Linked DNA regions of Homo sapiens: all the other regions are linked to region 1. Evidence: fine-mapped expression QTL. A gene starts in region 1. Each other region holds a variant in brackets. All regions are shown on one strand. Distances are between the middles of the regions.

Evidence for each region.
Region 2: its variant is fine-mapped to the expression of HABP4 in whole blood (INTERVAL, PIP above 0.99).
Region 3: its variant is fine-mapped to the expression of HABP4 in whole blood (INTERVAL, PIP 0.99).

Annotation. Positions count from the first base shown.
Region 1 is chr9:96,445,559-96,453,742 of GRCh38, forward strand. It overlaps HABP4 (hyaluronan binding protein 4), which reads left to right and starts at 4,611. Exons shown (of 8, transcript NM_014282.4): 1 at 4,611-5,070. The coding sequence starts at 4,722. RefSeq lists an enhancer at 4,029-4,108 and silencers at 4,389-4,928, 4,939-4,998, 5,079-5,128.
Region 2 is chr9:96,321,320-96,329,503 of GRCh38, forward strand. It overlaps SLC35D2 (solute carrier family 35 member D2), which reads right to left. Exons shown (of 12, transcript NM_007001.3): 10 at 2,772-2,850; 11 at 679-761; 12 at 1-22. SLC35D2-HSD17B3 (SLC35D2-HSD17B3 readthrough) reads right to left here. Exons shown (of 26, transcript NR_182427.1): 10 at 2,772-2,850; 11 at 679-761; 12 at 1-22. Among named protein-coding and RNA genes, the nearest start is that of HSD17B3, 23 kb to the left of the region's middle. The variant G/C (reference allele first, on the strand shown) is at 3,616.
Region 3 is chr9:96,514,625-96,522,808 of GRCh38, forward strand. It overlaps CDC14B (cell division cycle 14B), which reads right to left. Exons shown (of 14, transcript NM_033331.4): 12 at 7,882-7,979. Among named protein-coding and RNA genes, the nearest start is that of HABP4, 69 kb to the left of the region's middle. RefSeq lists an enhancer at 7,779-8,184. The variant A/G (reference allele first, on the strand shown) is at 3,515.

The DNA of each region.
Region 1 (8,184 bases):
GTCAAGTTGGCCAGGCATGGTGGATCATGGCTGTAATCCCAACTCTTTGGGAAGCTGAGGCAAGCAAATTGCCTGAGCTCAGGAGTTCCAGGCTGGTCTGGAATTTCTGGAGCGAATCACTGTTCCTGGTAGATTTTTTTTTTTTTTATTGAGCCAACAAAGTCCTTGGTTTTACTTATTCCAGATGGGTTTTCTGTTGCTCACAACTTGAAGGATCTAGAATAAATGAGGAAATAAAAAGTTCTAAATCCCCAATTATTTATTTGGCCTTGATTAAAGTTACAACTAGAGATCAAACTTTTAATAGTAGGAATGGGAGAGAATAAAAATTTCTATTGGCACAATTGCTTTGAGTATACAAAGCACTAAGCTATCCAGTAACCTTTTGTCATAAGAAGGCAAGTTGGAAAGACCCTCAATGACACCAAGAATACAAATATTATTAGCAGGTTGGGGAAATTATTTCATGATTTAAACATTGTGTATCTGATCATCATGAATGGATTTCCGCTTGCTAGAAGTTCTTCTGGTGCATCCTGATTGTTAACTAATGGTTTATGGTTCTACAACTCCTGACTTTGAGCCTATGTACTTGCTACTTGCTTTATTCATTTGTTGTGGGAAACTGAATTTGAACTCACTTATCACCCTTAGAATAGTGAAACCAGGAACTATTATGTAACTTCATTGATCCTGTCATAATTGACTCAACTGGCATAAAAGATCAGATCCTCTTAGAGTTAGGAAAAATACTTTTGTTTTTGCATATATTATGCAAGTAGAAACAATTATAAAATAGTGAGATTTATTTTTACCTTTTTCAATTGACTTCTTTGGTCTTGTCTTCCATTCAACTATATGAAGAATGCAAGACAGGTTATAATCATCCTAACTTTAGGGACAAGAAAAAGGTAAGGAGAGAGAGAGCAGGAATTCAGCGGCAAAACAGAGCAGATTGAATGCAGTGCTTTGGTAATTAACAAGAACTCACATCCTCGCCAGCCTGACCTGGCCTCTCCTCCTTGGCTCTCACCCAGGTGTTGCTCCCTGCATGTAATTGAAAGTAATGAAGCTACATGTGTCTAAACTCTCAATTAATGGTTCTGTGAATTCCAAGTCAATCTGGAAGATGTTAGTGTATTTTATTATTCCTAATGGGACTCCTCTATTAAGTAATTCAAGGTAATTTACATCTTGTATACAGTTAAGTTTCACTGCATTTCCATTGGTGGTAATAAATAACCACTGGAATATATATAATAATCATGGAAGGGCTGGTAGTATTATTCAGCATCCACACTTCACAGCATTTTTGATGTGCTTTGTTTTTCCATGCTATAAGATGTGTGTTATTGTTTGGTATTATGATTACTAAAAGCTGTTTTCATATATCAGATTATGAAAAAGATCAGTCTATTAAACTGACCACATTAAACACAATGTGTGAATAACTTATGCTAATGTGGTAGAGTTGTATTTTAGGAATGCATTTAAGGATGCAATCTCCTAGAAGAAAAAACAATCAGTAAAAAATATGAGGGTGCTTAACCTTACTCTCAGTAAATTGTGCAGTAGTCAATAGCCCCGTAAGAAACTCATGGCCATGGCCGGGCACGGTGGCTCACACCTGTAATCCCAGCACTCTGGGAGGCTGAGGTGGACAGATCACTTGAGTTTGAGAGCAGCCTGACCAACGTGGTGAAACCCTGTCTCTGCCAAACACACACACACACACACACACACACACACACACACACACACACACAAAGAAAAAAAAGAAAAAAAAGAAACTTGTGGCCATCTAATACCAGGTAAGGATTACTCATCTCTATTTCAGTTCTAAAGATGTTCTGAATCCTGAAGCAACGAGAGTTGGTTCTCTTACAACCATTTGGGGCATTTGTGACTTGGAAATGAGGCGGCAGTGCTCACAGGGCATGCTTTAAGAACTTACAGTGGCTGGTTATGCTGTAAGGAAGATAAGAAGAAAACAGGGGAGCAGGCTAACTCCAGATGCCCAGTGGGAAGACGACAGGCCCTTCTCTCACATGATCATGATTCCTTGGTGTTGTGGTTTGGTGATGAGCAGTTTAAAGATACCAAAGATAACTTTAGCTTGAAGCAGTGCTTCTCAAAGTGTGGTCTCTGTTGCATGTAGTGATTCTGGTTCATTGAGATAAATTTACTATTTTTACTCTGGTTCATTAAGATAAATTTACTATTTTTACAAAAAATTTACTATTTTTACTAAATTTTACACAAAATTTACTATTTTTACAATTTTAAAGTGTACAACTCAGTGACATTTACTAAATTTACAATTTTGTGCAACCATCTCCACTATCTCGTTCCAGAACATTTCATCACCCCACAGGAAACTCCCATGCCCATTAAGCAGTTACTTTCCAACACTCCCAACCCCCACACCTGGTGACCACCAATCTGCTTTCTGTCTCTATAGATTCTGGACATTTCATATAAATGGAATCATACAACGTGTGGCCCTTTTTGTCCGTCTTTCACTTAGCACAATGTTTTCAAGTTTCATCCCTGTTGTAACAAGTATCAATACTTCCTTTTTGACCAAATAATATTTTTTGTACCACATTTTATTTATCCATTCATCGGGTGACATGTATATTATTTGTTTCTGTCTTTTGGCTATTGTGAATAGTGCTGCTATGAATACTCATGTACAAGTTTTGGTTTGAACACTTGCTTTTAATTCTTTTGGGTAGAAAGCGTAGGCATTAATCTTTGCTCACTCAAAAGGAGATGACCAAATATCTTAAATTCTTCAATCATTCAACAAATATTTACTGAAAACCTACTCTATAGCTGCTTAGAACGCCAAGCACTGGGAATACATACTGCAGTGAATAAGACAGGCATCATCCCTGTCCTCCTTGGGAATAACACAAAATTCAATAAGTGAGTAACACACAGACTTTACAGCATTTAGGATTAGGAATTCCTTTGCTATTAAGGAAAGTAAAAGCTGGTCACAGAGCACCTGGCAAGATGCTCTAACTGGATGCTTTCGGATGAAACAAGCAAACACAACTAAGCGCAATCACATCTGTCACCTTACATCATAAGCCTCAAGTAGGGAGGTTCCCAAGTGGGTCCAGTCGGCAGCTCAACCTCATCAAGGATCTAGCCTTTCTCTATCCTGCTCTGCCATCCTCATGGCCACGCTAAGGAACAGCCACCCGAGGCATCATGTCTTCTCATGGAACAAAGACCAGGGAACAGAAGGGGGGGAGATCCCTTCTCAATCCCTTGTTAGGTGCAAGAAAAACTTTCCCAGAATACTTCTCAGATCTGTTCTGCCCGATTTGCCCCACAGCCTATTCCTAAGCCAATTACTGGCAAGGAATTGGAATCAGGTGCAATGAATAATGTATGATTAATCAAGTTTGAGGCTGGAAGGGGCCCTCTTCCCCTGGGGAATATGATGCCTGAACAAAATACAGGCTCTGGAAAAATGTAAGAGGGAAAGAACGGCTGTAGGATAGGCAGCCAAGCGTGTCTCCACCGCTGCCTATGCAAAGATTTCCTGGAGGAAGTCCAGTCCGGCGTTCTCTAAGCTCCAGGCCTCAACTGAATATCTCAAAAGAAAACAAATATCCAAACCTCAACGTGTCCCAGACTGAATTAATGATTCCCGTTAAAGTAGTGTCTTCCAGTGGTAACTAATACTATCATTCAGATGCTGGAGCCAGGAAAATAAGAGTCACCGTATCTTCTTCTCCCTCATCACCACCTCTAGCGCATCACCAAGTCTTTGAATCCATCTACTCTCTTCGCCTCCACCGCCACCATCCTAATCCCAGTCACTATCAACTCTTCCCTGGAGCTTTGCAACAATCATGTTTGGCTTCCCAGCATCCATTTGTATTTCCCTCCAAACTATTAGTTCACAGTGCAGGTAGGGTGGCCTTTTCAAACCCAAATCTGCTCATGCTCAAAACTTGCTTCCCACTGCTCTTAGAATAGAGACCACTTTGAGCTTGAATAGGCTGTGCACATCCCACCTCAAGACTGCTGCACTTGCTGTTCCTCCTCCAACCCCTTGTCACCCCTCTCCCTCGGCTTAACTGTCATTTCCCAATTAGGTCAGATCCCTTTGCTGCAGCCCGTAGAGAGCTCTGCGCCTGTCCTTCAGGGCACTTTTTCTCCATCTACAGACTCAGATCTGTGACAACACGGAGCTAGTATTTCCTACAACATAATGCCTGGCACACGGTAAGTGCGCAATATGTAGCTGTTGCACGGCTAAATGTATACATAAGCTTCAAAGCAGAGTGGCCCATAGCAAATACGGTCGCAGTCCCGGGAGAAAGCACACACAGCCGAGACCCCACCGCTTCGTCGGCGCCGCCTGGACCAGCCAGTAGCTCCGCCCCTGGGCCCCGCCCCTCCCTGCTGAGCGAACGGGGCGGGGCCCAGAGGTCGCGTGACGTGACAGCAGCCGGTCGGTGATTGGGTCTCCAGGCGCGCCGTGTCGGAAAGGGGGCGCACCCGCGCGCGCTGACTGGCTGTCTGGCGCAGCGGGGCGGACGGCGGCGGCGCCGCGGGGGCGGGCGCCGGTAGGGGCCGGACAGGGTAGGGCCCGGAGGGCGGTGGCGGCGGAGCGGGCGGCATGGGTCCTGGCCGCCGGCTTCGCTGAGACGCGCTCGCGTGGGCTGCCCTCCCGGGCCCGCAGTGGTCGCGGCGGCATGAAGGGCGCTCTGGGGAGTCCCGTGGCTGCCGCTGGCGCCGCGATGCAGGAGAGTTTCGGCTGCGTGGTGGCCAACCGCTTCCATCAGCTGCTGGACGACGAGTCGGACCCGTTCGACATCCTGCGCGAGGCCGAGCGCCGGCGCCAGCAGCAGCTGCAGCGCAAGAGGCGCGACGAGGCGGCGGCGGCGGCCGGGGCCGGTCCCCGCGGCGGCAGGAGCCCAGCCGGGGCCTCGGGCCACAGAGCCGGCGCGGGCGGCCGGAGGGAGTCGCAGAAGGAGCGCAAGAGCCTCCCGGCGCCCGTCGCTCAGCGGCCCGATAGCCCCGGGGGCGGCCTGCAGGCGCCGGGTACGCGGGGACAGCGGGGTTAGCGGACCACGGCTCGGCCCGCTGTGAGACTGGGGTCCCGGGGGCCGGTTTCAGGAGGAGGGGCCCGGGAACAGTAGGGAGAGTTGAGGGTCCTGGTGGCCGCCGAAGGTAGGAGGAGAGGGGCAGGGGTCACACCCCTTCCAGCTCTCGCCAGCCTCGTGCGGGGCTCCGGGGGAAACGCTGGCTTGGGGTGGGATAGGGCCCTCGAACCCTGGCACTGAGGCTCTACGGCAAGTTGGACGAAGTTGAGGGAGGTTGTCTGGGTGGCGTGTGGGGGCGAACGGCTGAGGTCGCTACCCCGGGGCTCCCACATCCAGACCTGGCGGGGACCTTCATCTTCCAGCCCAGCCTCTGCAAGATTGAGGTCGGAGCCACCCGAGAGCGCGGTGGGGAGGAGGAGGGCGCCTGGTCCCGGGGCTGGGGGCCTCTGTGATGCCGGAGGCCTGGGCGACCGCGGGGCGGCCTGTGACGTCGGGGCCCGGGCGGGGGTCCCCGGCGCGGTCCGGCCTGGCGCCTTCGCCCCTTCTCCGTCCGGTAGCTTCCAGGAGGCAGCCGGCATCGTATTTCAGTACTTCGTGTGGTGTTGATGGGATGTGCAACTTATAAATAGCTCAAGGCTGCTTTAAGAAAAGCGTTTTTAACCTTTCCAGCAAGAATATTCGGAGTTCCCCACTCCCTATTTAGCAAGAAAAACCGGTGCGCAGCGTGGTGTCCTGCTGCCTGTGGACGGGGAGGGTGCTTCAGAGTTCATTCTCTCACCGAACTGCGTCAGTGGCAGAGCCAGCAACACTCCACCTGTGTTTCCTGTTTTCTTGAAATGAGGCAGCGGTCCCAAGGTTTGCAGAGTGTTAGGATTAAGATGTGTAGGTTGACCATTCCTGCCGACGTTTGCCAGTGTGTTCAACTTGGCTTTATTGGTTTGTTCCTTGCTTGATAAAAATTGTGCATCGCAGCCCTGAGGAAACGTCTCAGGTTTAAGTATTAGGGCTTTGATGTGCAGCTGGGTAATGTTTACCTTTATTTGTGAAAAGCTAAATCCAGAGTCATCACTTGAGAATCAAGTCACTACAATAAAGATGTTGAAAATGATTTTTAAAAAAATGTTATTTACTATCTCACGACACTTTGGTAGGCCAGTAAATTTCTGAGCCTATCTAAACAGTGAGACTGGAGATACATTGTGCATTTTATATCCTGTTTTTTATCTTTTTCTCTTAAACTTATTTACATCAATATAATAAAGGAATTGAGGAAGGCTAAGCTTTTCTTCACCCTTTATTTTTTAACAAATGAAAATGCCGGGTGTGGTGGCTCACGCCTGTAATCCCAGCAGTTTGGGAGTCCGAGGCGGGCGGATCACGAGGTTAGGAGATCGAGACCATCCTGGCTAACACGGTGAAATCCCGTCTCTATTACAAATACAAAAAATTAGTCGGGCGTGGTGGCGGGCACCTGTAGGTCCAGCTACTCGGGAGGCTGAGGCAGGAGAATGGCGTGAACCCAGGAGGCGGAGCTTGCAGTGAGCCGAGATCGAGCCACTGTACTCCAGTCTGGGAGAAAGAGCGAGACTCCGTCACAAAAAAAAAAAAAAAAAAATTCTGTGCTTCAGAAAAACGTGAGACGAGTTAGTGCTGTTAATACATTGATTTTTAGCCTTTTTAAAATTGTCATGCATTTTTGTGTTAAGAATTTTAAGCAATTCCAAAATGTATGAGGTTAAGTGAAAATCCTCTTATTTTTCCTACTAACACTTTGCATTTATATACATAAATGCACAGAGCTATTTCTTTTCTTTCTAAACTTAAATGATATAAACTGGGTTGCAACCTGTTTCCTGCACTTGATGTTGTCATGTAGTACACTCGTAACTTTTTTTTTCTGTCAGTTGTTAGGTCTAAGTGATCTGGCTTTTGAAATCAACTAAAGGTATTTAGTTGATTTTGTAGTTAGAACGGAAATTTTATCATTCAAGTTCTTTTTCAAGTATGTGTTATTTCAGGAGCAAACAGCTCATTAATTTCCATTTATGTAGTTACTGTACTAAATTTATCTATAATGGGTGTCAAGGAGCTATTCTCTCAAGGTTTTGTAACCCTAGTTGATAAGAAGCACTGTACTTTTCTAACATTCAAAATTTTTTATCTAGTTAGAATGTTGTAAGTGAATGCTTAGTGTAGACAAAAATAAAACATGTTTGACATATCATAGAAATGTTAATCCTGAAAGAATGTGGAAGTCACAAGCTTTTCCTATGGAAAAGGGTTTTTTTTTTTTTTTTTTTTTTTTTTTGAGACAGAGTCTTTTTTTTTGAGACAGGCTGGAGTGCAGTGGCATGATCTCGGTTCACTGCAACCTCTACCTCCTGGGTTCAAGCGATTCTCCTGCCTCAGCCTCCTTAGTAGCTGGCATTACAGGCATCTGCCACCATGCCCGGCTAATTTTTTTTTTTTTTTTTTTTTTGAGACAGAGTGCAGTGGCGGGATCTTGACTCACTGCAACCTCTGCCTCCCCGGTTCAAGCGATTCTCCTGCCTCAGCCTCCTGGGTAGCTGGGACTACAGGCATGCGCCACCATGCCCAGCTAATTTTTGTATATTTTTTAGTAGAGGCATGGGTTCACTATGTTCATGTTGGCCAGGATGGTCTCGATCTCTTGACCTCATGATCTGCTTGCCTTGGCCTCCCAAAGTGCTGGGATTACAGGTGTGAGCTACTGTGCCTGGCCTAATTTTTTATATTTTTAATAGAGATGGGGTTTCACCATGTTGTCCAGGCTGGTCTTGAACTCCTGACCTCAGGTGATCCGCCCGCCTCAGCCTCCCAAAGTGCTGGGATTACAGGCGTGAGCCATGATGCCTGGCCAAAAATGTAGGTTTTTAATGTCTGACTATCTGTCTAGCAATATGTATATAAACCCTTGGGTGAGCCTTGCTCAATAAGTTCATTCTTAAAGTCATGAGAGGCCGTTTCAGTTTTGCTTTTCCTAGCCTTTCAGAATTATGTTCTTTGAAACAAAGGTCAATTTTATTTTGTGGAAAATCTTACTGTAAATTTTATTGTATTCTGTTTCTTTACCTGGGCTTGGTTTAGATGA
Region 2 (8,184 bases), 120 kb before region 1:
ATATCTCAAGCCCCCTGCCATGCTGAAAGGAGAAAAAAAAGTGAAAATAAATGACTGGGAATTTCACAGGGGCTCCAGCAGCAGTTGCTGGCGTTTTTATCAATACACCTGCTTCATGCGGAGGGAATTATTCCAATATCTGTGTTTCTCCTCAAGTTTGTGGATTGCTTGATGAGAATTTCCCCTTATTTACAAGCCTTTGGAGGCAGAAAAAGAGTCATCAAATCTAATGCAGAACCTCAGAGAGAAAATAAGCACTTGGTTTCTACTGAATAAACTACATACCCTTAGCCTTAAATAGTATCCCACTGCTGAGACCCCAAATGCCTTTCAAAGCTGGCTTAGTCCACACCCCCTGCATGCCGAGCCTAGTGGGCACAAAGGTTAACACCCTCCACTTTATAGGAGGAGGGCAGAGAACGCAGGGGCCTGCTGTGAGGAAGACAGGTGAGTTAAATTCCGATCCCAGCCCCGCAAACTGCCATCACACGTGTCCCCATGGATCTGCATGAGGATGAACCCAGTGATGAAGTAAAATTATCTTAGAAATTAGAATGTCAAAACGCCTCCTGGCTTAACGTGAAAGACTTCTCCAGGCTCTTTTGCTTATTACATATTAATCAGAGTGTTTAAGGTTCTTGTCTTCCCAAAGCGAGTCCATTAAAAATTCCCACTCACCAAATATTTAACCCTACAAAGTTTAACAAAGAGAAAATGTAGTCTCCACCGATTAATATCCCAATGTAGGCAACGGATACATTCTGCAGAAAAAGAGAGAGGATTCGTCATTTTAAAAGTAAACTGTTTAGGGGAAAATATAAATAGTAAAACCTGAAACTAGACATTTTAGTTACTTTGCATAGAGACTTGTACATAGGGATATTCACAGGTGGTTGAACAAAATAAAAACCATTACAGGCCAGGAATGATGGCTCACGCCTGTAATCCCAATACTTTAGGAGGCCAAAGTCAAAGGATCACTTGAGCCCAGGAGTTTAAGACCAGCCTGGGCAACATAGTGAGATCCCATCTCTACAAAAAATTTTTTAAAAGTAGCCGGGCATGGTGGCACATGCCTGTAATCCCAGCTACTCCACACGGACTGAAGTGGGAGGATTGCTTGAGCCCAGGAAGTCAAGGCTGCAGTGAGCTACATGCCACTGTACTCCAGCCTGGGCAACAGAGCAAGACCCTGCCTCAGAAAAATAAATAAATAAGCCATTACATATGGGGCTTACTAAATAAATGCAGTAAATTATGGTATGATAACAACAGAAAATTGCATTATTCTCTCTCTTGATCCAGTTGGCATGCAGGCAAAAGAGGAAGAGTGGGGCTGTCATCAGCTTGCCAGGTTCCTATCTCTTTACTATCATTGGGTAGTGAGGTTTTCTGGGGTTTTTTTTTTTTTTTTTTTGAGACAGAGTCTCACTCTGTTGCCCAGGCTGGAGTGCAGTGGCACAATCTCAGCTCACTGCAACCTTTGCCTCCCAGGTTCAAGAGATTCTCCAGTCCAGCCTCCCAAGTAGCTGGGACTACAGGGCACTCACCACCACGCCTGGCTCATTTTTGTACTTTTAGTAGAGATGGTGTTTCGCCATACTGGCCAGGCTGGTCTCTAATTCCTGACCTCAGGTGATCCGCCTGCCTTGGCCTCTCGAAGTGCTGGGATTACAGGCATAAGCCACTGTGCCTGGTTTTTCTTTTTTTTTTTTTTTTTCAACCTTGGGCTCCCACACTACACTGCAATCTGTGGACACAACAGGGCCAAGTAGTGAGTTAATTATCTTGATCGTAAACTTGAGCAGAGTGGAGACAGTCAACAAATTCCAGGCCGTGCTCTGCCCAGTGCATTCTAGGAGACCTCTGGGCACCCAGGGGACAGGTAAACTCTTGAAGCAGGCAGTGTTTTCACACACTCTAGGACTTCATGTGAATAGAAAAATGAAGCAATTATGGAATAGAATCCAGAACACCTCTCCCCCTATTCATTCATGTGCATGTGTGTGTATTCAGATGCATCCACACAAGCAAACACCCACACACCAACCCACCAGCTCATGATCTCACCACACAGCATACACCTCCACAAGGGCTCCACTTCTCAGTGGGCAGGTTCTCCCAGAAAACCAAATTATGGATCACAAGGTATCTTGCTAATCATTGATACCTGGACTGATTTTATTCTTTTTAGCTTTTTACTTCATTTTCCCAGACCCACCCCCTCTGAGCCACCCCCAACTTAAAAGTTATAATTCATCTCTCCTTTATAAATTAGCAATCTGTCCCTCTATTCTATGCAATAGATTAGAAGAAGTAAGACGGGGCCGGGCTCGGTGGCTCACGCCTGTAATCCCAGCACTTTGGGAGGCCGAGGTGGGTGGATCACGAGGTCAGGAGTTCAAGACCAGCCTGGCCAACATGGTGAAACCTGGTCTCTACCAAAAATATAAAAAATTAGCCGGGTGTGGTGGCAGGCGCCTGTAATCCCAGCTGCTCGGGAGGCTGAGGCAGGAGAACCGCTCGAACCAGGGAGGTGGAGGTTGCAGTGAACCAAGATCGTGTCACTGAACTCCAGCCTGGACAACAGAACGAGACTCTGTCTCAAAAAAAAAAAGAAGTAAGATGGGATCACACAGGCCGAGCTGAAAAGGTCACAGCCCTCGTTCTTACACCACCACCAACAACAAAATCAAACCCGGCCTCCCATGGAATATTTGGATTTCCATTCCTTGACTCAGTTGTTCCCTTCCAAGTTTCCATCCACTCACCTTGATGGCTCCAACCACTGCTGTCGTCAGGGCTGAATTGTAATAGCTGCACAGAACCGTGGAGTACATCAGCAGAAACCTGTGACAAGGAAGCAGACACTGGAGTGTGTGCCTCACTACGCTGGGTAATGACAAATAGGTTAAGGCCAGCAGTGACCCCCACACAAGCACTTTAAGCGAAGAAAAAAGAAACACATATCATAAAGGTTTTGTAACCCACATCTTAAGATATGTTGCTATTGGTCTTATGACAGGAAAATGGTCCAGCTGTGAATTAGCTAAACCTTCTACTTAAGGTATCCTTCTCATTTTCTCTGTACATTTCCAATGAATGTTTCCACAACATGGGAGTAAGGAGAACAAGGTTTAATGACCTGAAATCTCTCATTTATCAGCATGTTAAATGAAGTTAAGAATTGGAGTTTTTAATCCTCTGTGCCTCAGAATCGCCTGCTGCACTTTTTTTTTTTTTTTTTGGTGGGGACGGAGTCTCGCTCTGTCACCCAGGCTGCAGTGCAGTGGTGCAATCTCGGCTCACTGCAACCTCCACCTCCTAGGTTCCAGCAATTCTCCTGCCTCAGCCTTCCAAGTAGCTGGGACTACAGGCTCATGCCGCCATACCCAGCTACTTTTTTTTGTATTTTAGTAGAGATGGGGTTTCACCATGTTGCCCAGGCTGGTCTTGAACTCCTGAGCTCAGGCAATCCACCCGCCTTGGCCTCCCAAAGTGCTAGGATTACAGGCGTGAGCCACCGCGCCTGGCCCGCCTGCTGCACTTCCAACACACAACGAACGATGCCTGGCAGAGGTTCTGCTTCACATGGTTTGAGGTGGGGCCCCGACC[G/C]TGCACGATATGAAAGATCCTCAGGTGATTCTGATCTGTAGCCAGAGCAGAGGACCTCTGGTGTCAGAAGAGAAAATCAGCTGAGCGATTGCTGCCTTGGACGGAGGAGATTGAAATAGATTCCACTTGTGGATAATGCTCCTGTAACTGTTACCAAAGTTAACTCAGGCACTTAACATGACCGTAGGTATTGATACTTACTTGCCAATAAAATGACTACAGCCTTGTGGATGAGCGCCAGACAAGAAAACACATACACAGGTAAAGAATGCCAAATCCAGTCAGGTAAAGAAGCGAGCTAATTCCAGTCAAGCAGTGATGGAAATTAGCTGCAACCTCACCTAAGCTGCAACTCAGATCAGATGATGGAATGTTGAAAGGGATTACAAACTGGCTGAGAAAGAAACATGGATGGTACAAGGAGAGTACAAGATGTGTGAGATTTGAAAAGCTAAATCCCAGGTCAGGTTCGGCACGGTGGCTCATGCCCATAATCCCAGCACTTTAGGAGGCAGAGGTGGGTGAATCACCTGAAGTCAGGAGTTCGAGACCAGCATGGCCAACATGGTGAAACCCTGTCTCTACTAAAAATACAAAAATTAGCCGGGCGTGGCGGCACATGCCTGTAATCCCAGCTACTCGGGAGGATGAAGCAGGAGAATTGCTTGAACCCAGGAGGCGGAGCTGAGATCATACCACTGCACTCCAGCCTGGGTGACAGGGCGAAACTCCATTTCAATTAATTAATTAATTAATTAGTCCCAGGTTAAAGGCAGGAACTTGGATTCACCATTGACAGAGAGAAGTGAACTCAACTCTAGCAAAGGGGTTAGTGCACCTGCACTTGGGTAAGCACAGAATTTATTTAATTCTAGAATCCTGCTAGAATTCAACACTCGGTCTTGGTCCTAGGCTCAAATCTCTGGTGAAGATCACAGTCACAAACCTTCAACACGATAACCTCTGTTGGCCTGAGTGTGTTTATTACTAGAGGTGGTAGAGGGAAAAAAATCAGAATATCAAGCTTTACAAGTTGAAGAATAAACTTAACTTCAAACTTAAATTTTGTAATCTTTGCAATACTGTGTGCATTGTAATTAAAACAATTTGAAAAGTTAAAGAAACTCTGTGGTTCTAATTTGAAATATATAATTGATATTAGACTTGCAATTTTAATTTGAAAGAAGAGCGTCGAAGTCTGCATCAGGATTTGAATGTTTTTAAGAAGCTGATTTACCCCATTTCTAAATTTGGTTTATTCTATTTCAAAGAGTTGCTTAAGTACAGAAAGCAATCTACTAGCTTTGTTAATTGGCCTCAGGGGTTGGAATTGCTGAAGAAAAAGTAGGCAGCTCCCATTTGTAAAAACAGTTGAAAATGCTTAAATTCTTTTAATTCACTAAGTTGTAAATGGAACTGATTTACAGTACATTGTTTAGGGGATTTTAATCAGCTAAACTTGAGTTAATAAGCCATTTATCAAATAATGAAAGTAAATGTTCTTTTATAGAAAAATTGTTAGCCTTCTAAATAAGGCAATAATATTTGTAAGTTGAACTTTAAGGCTTAAGAAAAAATCTAAGTTTCGGCCAGGTGTGGTGGCTCACGCCTGTAATCCCAGCAGTTTGGGAGGCCAAGGCAGGCAGATCACAAGGTCAGGAGATTGAGACCATCCTGGCCAACATGGTGAAACCCTGTCTCTAATAAAAATACAAAAAAAATTAGCCAGGCATGGTGGCATGCGCCTGTAATCCCAGCTACTCGGAGGCGCTGAGGCAGGAGAATTGCTTGAGCCTGAGAGGCGGAGGTTGCAGTGAGCCGGGATCGCACCACTGCACTTTAGCCTGGGCAACAGAGCGAGACTCTGTCTCAAAAAAAAAAAAAAAAGAAAATCCAAGTTTCTCAAATTGTTATAATTTTAATAAATCTAACATTAATTTAGATTCCCAGGAGCTATAAATAATCCTATTTATCCATACAATGAAAAAATTAAAAAACTCAAACTGATGCCACTGAGTGCCTGCTCTGCCAGGCCCTGGCTGTCAGAGGGGACCATCCCATCCACAGCACCTGCCCCGGAGCCACTCAGACCCAGATCAGAGGAGAGAGCTGCACAGCAGCGGGAGCACAGCACAGGGCCCAGCCCAACGCAGGGGCAGAGAGGAGCTTCCTGCAGGCCGCCTATGCACCAGCACAGCCTTAAACCAAGGACAGCATGGATGTTCTTTATTTCCACTTTTGCTTTAAAATTCCAACTCCAGGGTTCCAATCATGCAACATTTTCTCCATCCTCCATTTTTCTTTTCTTAAAAAAGGGTTGGGGGGAACCTCATCTCTTGACAAGATCTGGCTATATTACCCAGGCGGGACATGAATGCCTGGGTTCAAGTGATCCTCCCGCCTGTCTTCCAAGTAGCTGGGACTACAGATGTGTGTCGTCACACCCAGCTCCATCTTAGTGAAACCACCTCAGCCTGCATTCAGAATCAGAAGACATCATGGATCTAAGATCCCAGCACCCATCCATCATGAGTGTGGGTGACTAGGACATCACTCACCAGCTGGGCTGAGCCAAGGGAGGAGAATCCCTCCCTAACATTCTGGAGTGAGCCTCAGTGAGCAGCCATCCTCCTTAGCAACAGATGGCGGCTAGATAGAAGGGCTGCACTTCTTTTTTCTTTTTCTTTTTCTTTTTTTTTTTTTTAAAGATGGGGTCTCACTCTTTCGCCCAGGCTGGAGCGCAGTGGTGTGATCATGGTTCACTGCAGCCTCCACCTCCCAGGCTCAAGCAATCCTCCCACCTCAGCCTCTCAAGAAGCTGGGACTACAGGTACACATCACTAAACTTGGCTAATTTTTAAATTTTTTCTAGATACAGAGTCTTGCTATCTTGCCCAGGCTGATCTGGAACTCTGGGGCTCAAGCAATCCTCCCTCTCTGGCCTCCCAAAGTGCTGGGACTATAGGAATTAGTCACCACTCCCAGCTTGCACTTCTTAATATACCCACTAGATGTCCCCAGAGAGGGCAAATATAGAACCACCAGGCTCAAAGTAGCAGTATATTACATTTTTTAAAAGAATCTATTTCTATATGCAAAAAAAACTTGCATAGTTCTTTGGCCAAAACCAAGACTTTGAACTAAAAGAACCTTCGTTAACTCAGTACTCAGTGCAAGGGAAACCTCACCACTTTTATTACTGAAAATATCAACCTCCACATGACTAGCTTTGATTTTACTATCTGTAGATTAATAAAATACAAAGATATTTAAAAGTATTGCTGAATTCTTAGTAACCTTTTTTACCATTCTATATTTTTTAGATAGGGTCTCACTCTGTTGCTCAGGCTGGAGTACAGTGGCACAATCACAACTCACTGGGCTCACATGAGCCCAGCCTCCATCTTCTGGGCTCAGGTGGTCTTCCCACCTCAGCCTCCCAAAGTGCTGGGATTACAGGTGTGAGCCACCACGCCCAGCGTGCTCTGTATTTTGAAGTCATGATATTATCTGTGTACATTTGAAATATAACAGCACATACATCTGATGCACATTTATTCAGACAACAGAGGCCAGCTGAGTGTTCTGCTTCTAGGGCCCCCAGGGTGGAGGTGCCCAAGTAGAAACTCCTGGACCAGAGCCTCTGCTCAAAGCCTTCTTCTTCCTGTTCTAAAAACAGCACAAAAAGTAACTGCCTTACCCAACATTGTGGCAGTCACAAACAGAACTCAAATGACCTAGTTTATACCTTGTCACTGATTACCGTTCCCTGCCCCAACAAATATAGAAACTCAACAAACGTTCAAATATTCACAGGCCACTTTTGCATTCTTTCCACCATCCACAATGGTACCCAAGCACATCATTCTCTTATAATTCCAGATTTCAAAGAATTCCAAGGAACCCCATCCTCACCATCTCTAGGAAGAACTCACTCCTAAGAACTCACAGAGTGCCAGCCTGGACAACATGGTGAAACCCCGTCTCTACTAAAAATACAACAATTAGCTGGGCTTGGTGGCTGGAACCTATAATCTCAGCTACTCAGGAGGCTGAGGCAGGAGAATCGCTTGAACCCAGGAGGCGGAGGTTGCAGTGAGATGAAATCGCGTCACTGCATTCTAGCCTGGGCAAACAGAGTGAGACTCCATCTCAAAAAAAAAAAAAAAAGACATTATTTATGTCTTTTAAAGGACAGAAATTCTACAAGATTGAATAATTTGGCAGGAGACATTTACATATATACACACACACATATACATATATACTTTTATATATATAAATACACACTTTTTTATATATATACTTTTTTTAGAGACAGGCTCTCCCTCTGTTGCCCAGGCTGGAGTGTAGTGGTGCCATCATAGCTCACTGCAGCCTCAAACTCCTGAGCTCAAGCAATCCTCCTGCCTCACCCTCCTGAGTAGCTGGAACTACAAGAACATGCCACCACATTTGCCTAACTTTTTTCTGTAGAAATGAGTTCTCATATGTTGCCCAGGCTGGTCTCAAACTCCTGGCCTCAAGTGATCCTCCCACTCAGCCTCCCAAACAAAGCTTTGGGGCTAC
Region 3 (8,184 bases), 69 kb after region 1:
GATCTTGCAAGGAACTTTTGCATTCTTTCATAACTTCCAAGTCCAAGAGGAGACAAGAGAAGAAATTCTTAAAATATGAGTTAAGGAAAAAGCTTCAGAGAAGGAAGAACGCAGCTCAGACACAGAAGGGTGGCGGTGGACCCCGTGACACGGACACACCCGCCTTCTGGGGGTCTTCAACATGCTGTTCCACAAGTGGGCCTCTTGTACATTCTTCTGCAGAAATAAAGCCTCTTCGCTGTTAAGGTCTTCATTTCAAAGATGAAAGATCTCAAGAGAATACAGATTTGCTGCTATTAGCCTATTAAAGGCATTCTGGCTATGTCTGGGCAAGGAGAAAAGCAGGAACAATGACCATCATATGGAAATGCACCAATTTAAACAGGCGACCTCAGCTCCGACCTCCTACTTTCATTTAGCATCAAGTGCTACACACTGTACTTACTGTATTCCCTAAAGGGGAGGAGGAAAATGAGACAGAGCAGGAAATTCTGCACACTAAAGAGAGAAGACTTATGAGAGAGCTGCTGTACAATGGCAGATTTCGAGGCTACAAAATCACATATTTAATGAAAGTAGATCAGTGGGAAAAATGCTTCTTTGCTAGACTGGGAAGGACATACTCAAGATACAGAAAACTAGAGGGAAATTGTATAGCCAACTGACGAAAATAAAACCACCCCAATTATCCTAAGCTAACTACTTTTGATAGGGAAGAAAAACTGTTTCAGTGAAGAAAAACTGTTTCAGTGTCTTTATCAACTGCTATTTTGAAATATGTTAAGGATAAGCATAACTTTAAAACAACGTATGTTACTTTCAATATCCTTTCTATGAGAGGAACAGTGAAGCCCACCTTCCCTCCCCACCACCATCCCATTAATTGAAAAGATTCAGAAAAAGAACCTTTGAAAATAGGCAAACCAACAAAGCTAGGAGCTGACAAGGAGAAAAACATGCATTGTGGGAACCACACTAGGCACCAGAAGTAAGCAACGGCAGAGAAACAGAACGGGACACTTACAGCAGCTATCTGTCAGGGGGTCCTGATGGCTACTGTGTTCTGAAACCATCGAGACAGAATAGCAGGATGGGAAGAATGTAGTCACAAACAATCCACCAGATGACAACACTACACAGTGCAGAGGTCAGCACAGCTAGGGGACATCTGGAAAGGGGTGAAGGGGAAAGAACAGATGTTCAAATTGGGAAGCCAAAATAAATTACGCAATCATCAATCAATCAAGCCATATGTGAATTTTAGACACCCTAAAAGCCCAGCCAACAGCAACAGGGATACAAAGGGGTGGTCAACAAGGATGGAGTTTTGCCATTTTATGTTGAATAAAAAAATGCTGTGTTTAAACAGGTTTCATACTTTGGGACTCAGTCACTAGTGAGATAACTACCCCATGTTAATTTAACTTTATGATACTGAAATCAGTCACAGATAAATGATTGAGGTTCTTCAAAAAGCAGAAGATGTGCACACACAGAAAACTAAAGCAAACCACAAGGGGCAAAGGAGGCAAAACCAGATAACCAAAAACAAACAAACAAAAAAACACAAAACCCCAGACTAGTTAACAAAATCACAGGAGGCACAACTAAAAATGAACGTAATACAGCAGAACTGATCTCACTTCAAGGGAGTTACTAACTCCTGAGCCATCCAGGAAGCTAAGGGAATGGCACATTTTTATAATATGGTTCACATTTAACCCAGGGCAACACAAAATGAGCAAAATTTCACTTAGGTATGCATACTATAGACTTTTCTTAGTTGTTTTCCACACTCATTTTCCTCATACTAGTTGGCTTTCAGCTTGGTGTTTCTTTCTTATTTTTTATTTTTTAATTATTATAATTTTTTGAGATGGAGTCTTGCTCTGTCACCCAGCCCGGAGTGCAATGGCGTGATTTTGGCTCACTGCAACCTCCGCTTCCCAGGTTCAAACAATTCTCCCACTGCAGCCTCCTGAGTAGTTGGGATTAGAGGCGCACATCACCACGCCCGGCTAAGTACTGTATTTTTAATACAGGGTTTCACCACGTTGGCCAGGCTGGTCTCAAACTCCTGATCTCAGGTGATCCGCCTGCCTCAGCATCCCAAAATGCTGGGATTATAGGCGTGAGCCATCGCACCTGAGCTCTATTTTATTATTTATTTATTTAATTTTTTTTGAGATGGAGTTTCACTCTTGTCGCCCAGGCTGGAGTGCAGTGGTGTGATCTCGGCTCACTGCAACCTCCCCCTCCCGGGTTCAAGCAATTCTGCCTCAGCCTCCCAAGCAACTGGGATTACAGGCATGTGCCACCATGCCCAGCTAATTTTGCATTTTTAGTACAGATGGGGTTTCTCCATGTTGGTTAGGCTGGTCTTGAACTCCTGACCTCACCCTGCCTCTTTTTTATTTTTAAGAAACAGGGGTCGGCCGGGCGCAGTGGCTCATGCCTGTAATCCCAGCACTTTGGGAGGCTGAGGCAGGTGGATCACCTGAGGTCAGGAGTTCGAGACCAGCCTGGCCAACATGGTGAAACCCCGTCTCTACTAAAAAAATACAAAAATTAGCCAGACGTGGTGGCATATGCCTGTAATCCCAGCTACTCGGGAAGTTGGGGCAGGAGAATTGCTTGAGCTCGGGAGGCGGAGGTTGCAGTGAGCCGAGATCATGCCACTGCACTCTAGCCTGGCCGACAGAGCGAGACTCTGTCTCAAAAAATAAAAAAAATAAAAAAAAATAAAGGCCGGGCGTGGTGGCTCACACCTGTAATCCCAGCACTTTGGGAGGCTGAGGCGGGCGGATCACGAGGTCAGGAGATCAAGACCATCCTGGCTAACATGGTGAAACCCCGTCTCTACTAAAAATACAAAAAATTAGCCGGGCGTGGTGGCAGGCACCACGCTACTCGGGAGGCTGAGGCAGGAGAATGGCATGAACCTGGGAGGTGGAGCTTGCAGTGAGCCAAGATTGCGCCACTGCACTCCAGCCTGGGCGACAGAGCAAGACTCCGTCTCAAAAAAAAAAAAAAAAAAAAAGAAGAAGAAAGAAAGAAAGAAACAGGGGTCTTGCTCTGTTGCCCAGGCTGGAGTGCAGTGGCGTTATCATAGTTCACTGTAACCTCCAACTCCTAGGCACAAGCAATCCTCCCACATCAGCCTCCTGAGTAGCAGCTGAGACTGCCTGTTCATGCCACCATGCCCAGTTTTTTTTTTTTATTTTTTTTGTAGAGACAGAATCTCACTATGTTGGCCAGGCTGGTCTCGAACTCCTGGGCTCAAGTGATCCTGCTGCCTTGAACTCCCAAAGCACTGGGATTACAGGCATGAGCCACTGTGTCCAGCCTCAGCTTGGTGTTTCTTAATCCATTGGTCTGGGTTCTAGCAGTGAGGAAGGAAACCTCCTCCCATTTGGAAGGGCAGAAGCTCTTTCCAATGACTATACTTCCAAATGGTCACCTGGATACATCTGTGACCAAATATTAGAGCCTCTACTGAGCATCTGCTGTGTGC[A/G]GAGTACTGCTAATCAATTTGGAAATGGCTGATTTGGCTTATCATGTCATTTTTATTGTTGACCTCATCACTGTCATCATTAAAAATTACATGTCAGGCCAGGCGCAGTGGCTCACGCCTGTAATCCCAGCACTTTAGGAGGCTGAGGCGGGCAGATCACGAGGTCAGGAGTTTGAGACCAGCCTGGCCAACACGGTGAAACCCCATCTCTACTAAAAATACAAAAATTAGCGAGGCGTGGTGGCGTGTGCCTGTATTCCCAGCTACTCAGGAGGCTGAGGCAGGAGAATCACTTGAACCCATAAGGTGGAGGTTGCAGTGAGCCAAGATTACGCCACTGTACCCCAGCCTGGGTGACAAAGCAAGACTCTGTCTCGGGGAAAAAGAAATTACATGCCAGGCATCCTATATTGTGGAAAGGGATTAGACTAAAGGGTGAACTCGAAATACAGCCTAACCTTACCCCACAAGTTATACCCACACCATCTTATTTAATCTTCCCACAAAAAAAACAAGCTACTAATATACATAAAGATCACAGGGGTGAATATTTAAATGGAATGAATAAATGGTCTGGGAGCCCTAGAGAACTCTCTACCGATCCCAGCCTTCACCTTCAGTTCCTTAAAGGCAGAATGGCCCGAATGTCCAAGTGTCAGCATTATAGATGGTTACTTTTTCCTCTAGTAAACCTCATGGCTTAAGAATTATTTTCCGGCCGGGTGCAGTGGCTCACACCTGTAATCCCAGCACTTTGGGAGGCCAAGGTGGGCAGATCACGAGGTCAGGAGATCGAGACCATCCTGGCTAACACAGTGAAACCCTGTCTCTACTAAAAATACAAAAATTTAGCCGGGCGTGGTGGTGGGCGCCTGTATTCCCAGCTACTTGGGAGGCTGAGGCAGGAGAATGGCATGATCCCAGGAGGCGGAGCTTGCAGTGAGCCGAGATCGCACCACTTTACTCCAGCCTGGGCGACAGGGCGATACTCTGTCTCAAAAATAAAAATAAAAAATAAAAATAAAAAAAGAATTATTTTCCATTGCTAACAGATATACTCATCTCCAAACCTACCAAAACCATCAGTATGCAGAACGACAGGCCTCATGGCTCAAGTTATGCAATCTACCAAATCCATTTTAGCACAGACAATATACTTGTCATCACGTCCTGAAGATCAGCTCAATGTCATGGTGCCACATGGTTTCCTGTCATCATTGTAGTCAGGATCAGACAGGCTGAGCAAATGGCCATTTTATAATCACTAAAAACTTAAACTCTCCCCCAAAACTGACCATTTATAAAAGAGAAACCGGCCAGGCGCCGGTGGTTCATGCCTGTAATCCTAGCACTTTGGGAGGCTGAGGTGGGTGTACCACTTGAGGTCAGGATTTCGAGACCAGCCTGGCCAACATGGTGAAACCTTGTCTCTACTAAAAATACAAAAAATTAGCTGGGTGTGGTGGTGCATAATCCCAGATACTCCGGAGGCTCAGGCAGCAGAATCACTTGAACCTGGGAGGCAGAGGTTGCAGTGAGCCGAGGGCACACCATTGCACTCCAGCCCGGCCAACAGAGCAAGACTCTGTCTTAAAAAAAAAAAAAAAAAAAAAAAGAGAAACCAATCATTGGAATAATATTTTATGTACTATAACCTTCTCCTAAGAATCACTAGTACTTGTGTATTTCTCACTAACTTTCCTTCTTGCATGTACTGTATTTTCATAAGGCTAAGTGCCAATGCTAAAGCAAAATAACTTGCTCACAGAAATCAATGAGTCAAACTTGGATGAAGAAATTGATTTTGTATTTTTCAACCCAAGCAACTGTTGAGAACAGTCCCTCAGGGACTTCTATTCCTAAAATAACAACATAGACACAAGAGGGAAAGAAAGAAAATCTTCAATTGATCTTTTCTAGGGCCAAAAAACTGCAAATAATAGCAGAGAGGGTTTGAAAAAGCAGAGACGGGGATAAGCAAAATGTTGTAAGGGAGGAGGAAGGAGATTTGCTGAGACTCATCAAAAATCCCCTCGGGTCTATACACATAACTCAGAGCTTAGAAAAACTAGCATTTCGCTTTCTTCTTTAAAAGTGTGGCCTAAAACTTTGTTATTTGTGTTATGTGGGGCTATTTATATATATTGTTTTTGGGATATTACCAAAAGGAATCCTGAGCTACCTCTTTGTTTTTTAACTTTTACCATTGTACTTGATTTTACTTATTTATTTAGACAGGGTCTCACTCTGTCACCCAGGCTGGATGCAGTGATCATGGCTCACTGCAGCCTCAGACTCCTGGGCTCAAGTAGTCCTGTTGCCTCAGCCTCCCGCATAGCCTGGTCTACAGGTGCGCACAGCCACGCCCAGCTAGATTTGAACTCACGTTAATGAGAGTAGCAGATTCAGAGGGTGACTAAAGGAAATTTCCTATTTAACAAAAACTTTTGACTAAGCAGGATTTGTATCCCCTGACTCTCAACTTGACTTTTGAACAGCAGGCAACAAAATATTAAAACATAAACTGATGATGCTGATTCTGAAAAACAAAACAAAAAATCCCAGACACAGCTAAAATCAACCCACAAAAGCATCAGTTTCCTAGGGCTTGCAATTCAATGTGTGGTCCCTGGACCAGCAGCCTCGGATAGAAATGTGAACTCTTGGGCCCCACCCCCACCCCACCAATCATAACCCATATTTCAACAAGCGCCCGGGTGCCTCCTGCACACTGAAGTCTGAGAAGCACTGCTCGAGGGTGCTGCCTGCCTCCTCCACCACATCCAGAATTAGTATCTGGATGATTACCTGGAGCCACCATAATACTTCCAAAGAAAAACCATTAAGGCCTTAGGTGAAGACTTTTAATAAGGAAATTAAAAACAAAATGGCATTTGGAGTTAAGTAAATTATACAAAGGCACTATTTTTGTTTGTTTGTTTGTTTTTTGAGATAGAGTCTCACTCTGTCACCCAGGCTGGAGTGCAATGGCACGATCTCGGCTCAATGCAATCTCTGCCTCCCGGGTTCAAGCGATCCTCCTGCCTCACCCTCCCGAGTAGCTGGGATCCTATAATGCCTACAGCTCCCACCATCATGCCCGGCTAGTTTTTGTATTTTTGTAGAGACGGGGTTTCACCATATTGGCCAGGCTGGTCTTGAACTCCTGACCTCAGGTGATCTGCCCACCTTGGCCTCCCAAAGTGCTGGGATTACAGGCATGAGCCACCACACCTGGCCAAAAGGCACCATTTTTAAAAAAGTATAGTTGACTAAAGTACCACTAAGTTGCAAAAGAAATGCTTAATAAATGCCTATAATCAAAATGGATGCCCTACATTCATTCACATAACACTGCATATTGTAAAACTCAATTCTTTGCCTTGGGTCTTTTAAGAAGAACCTCCCAGGGGAGCAACCCATAATGACACATGCCTTAGGTGTAATTCTACTTCAGAATTTTTATGACGAGACACTAGTGAGGAATTACTTTTAATTGAAAAGAAAACCTGTTCTCTGCCAATATAAATGGTATATTATATCATACTTCCTTACCATATTACAAGATGCTTACTGAATAAATGATCTATGTCCATCACACTCCCTCCCCGCAAAAAAGAAGGCTGGAAATCTGGTGTCCCACAATGAAAAAGGAAGTAACTAGAAGGAAGAAATCCAATGGCAACAAGTGGGAGCATTTACTAAAGAACAGCCTACAAAAAATACCATGGTCATGTACTTTGCTTCTGCATATTTTTCTAACAATCTTGGATGCTCCATCAGGTTGAATCCCAACTAACACACATTCACAAGAATGTACACATAGACATACATACACTCAGTACTACAACATTTCCTATTCTCAGGCTAAATCTTCCTCTATAATTAGAAAATCATTCCCCAAAGAAACAAACGAAAAACCCAAAATATAGTTTAGACCAGTTCATTGTTGCCCCAAAACAACATAATGTCATTAAGCCATCATGTCATGCTTATCAAAACAAATGATCTGCAACATGGCAAATGTAAAGAAATACACCACTTTAGTAACTATGGACAAGTCTGGCATCCTGGGCTTTACATCTGCTGTCGCGCTCCTGAGGATGCCCCATGCTGATTATTCATGGAGAAAAAGTATCCCTGATGTCGCCTTCCCACCCATAAAGGCTCATGAGGACCAAGGTAAACAAGGGACAGCTGAGAGCTTCCAAGGCCAGCACCCCTAGGTTTTAAATAACATAGGCAAGCATTTCAAAGTGGCATCATGGGCTTGCAACTATGGAGAAAAATGTACAGGAAAAACCCTCACCAAGGACCCCACACACATATGAAGAAACATCAACCACAACAAAGGAACCCAGACTCACGTGAGAGGAATAGCGTTTGTTTTGGATTGTCTTCTGCTTTTCAAGGCCCGAAGTCTATCACCTTGTGTCACTCCATTGATTTCGTCATCATCACTGTACTGTGTAAGTAAAAAAACACTGAGCTAATGATTTAAGTTGCACTTATTAATGCAGTACAGCAGAGCAGCAATTTATCCACATGAACACAGTCCAAGTTTCTGCAAGCTCTAGAATATTTTTCCCTTTCACAATCAAGCTTCAGGTGACATTTTAAGACAGCCAAAGTTGACTTTCAGAGACAACACAGCAGCACTCTTGTTAGAA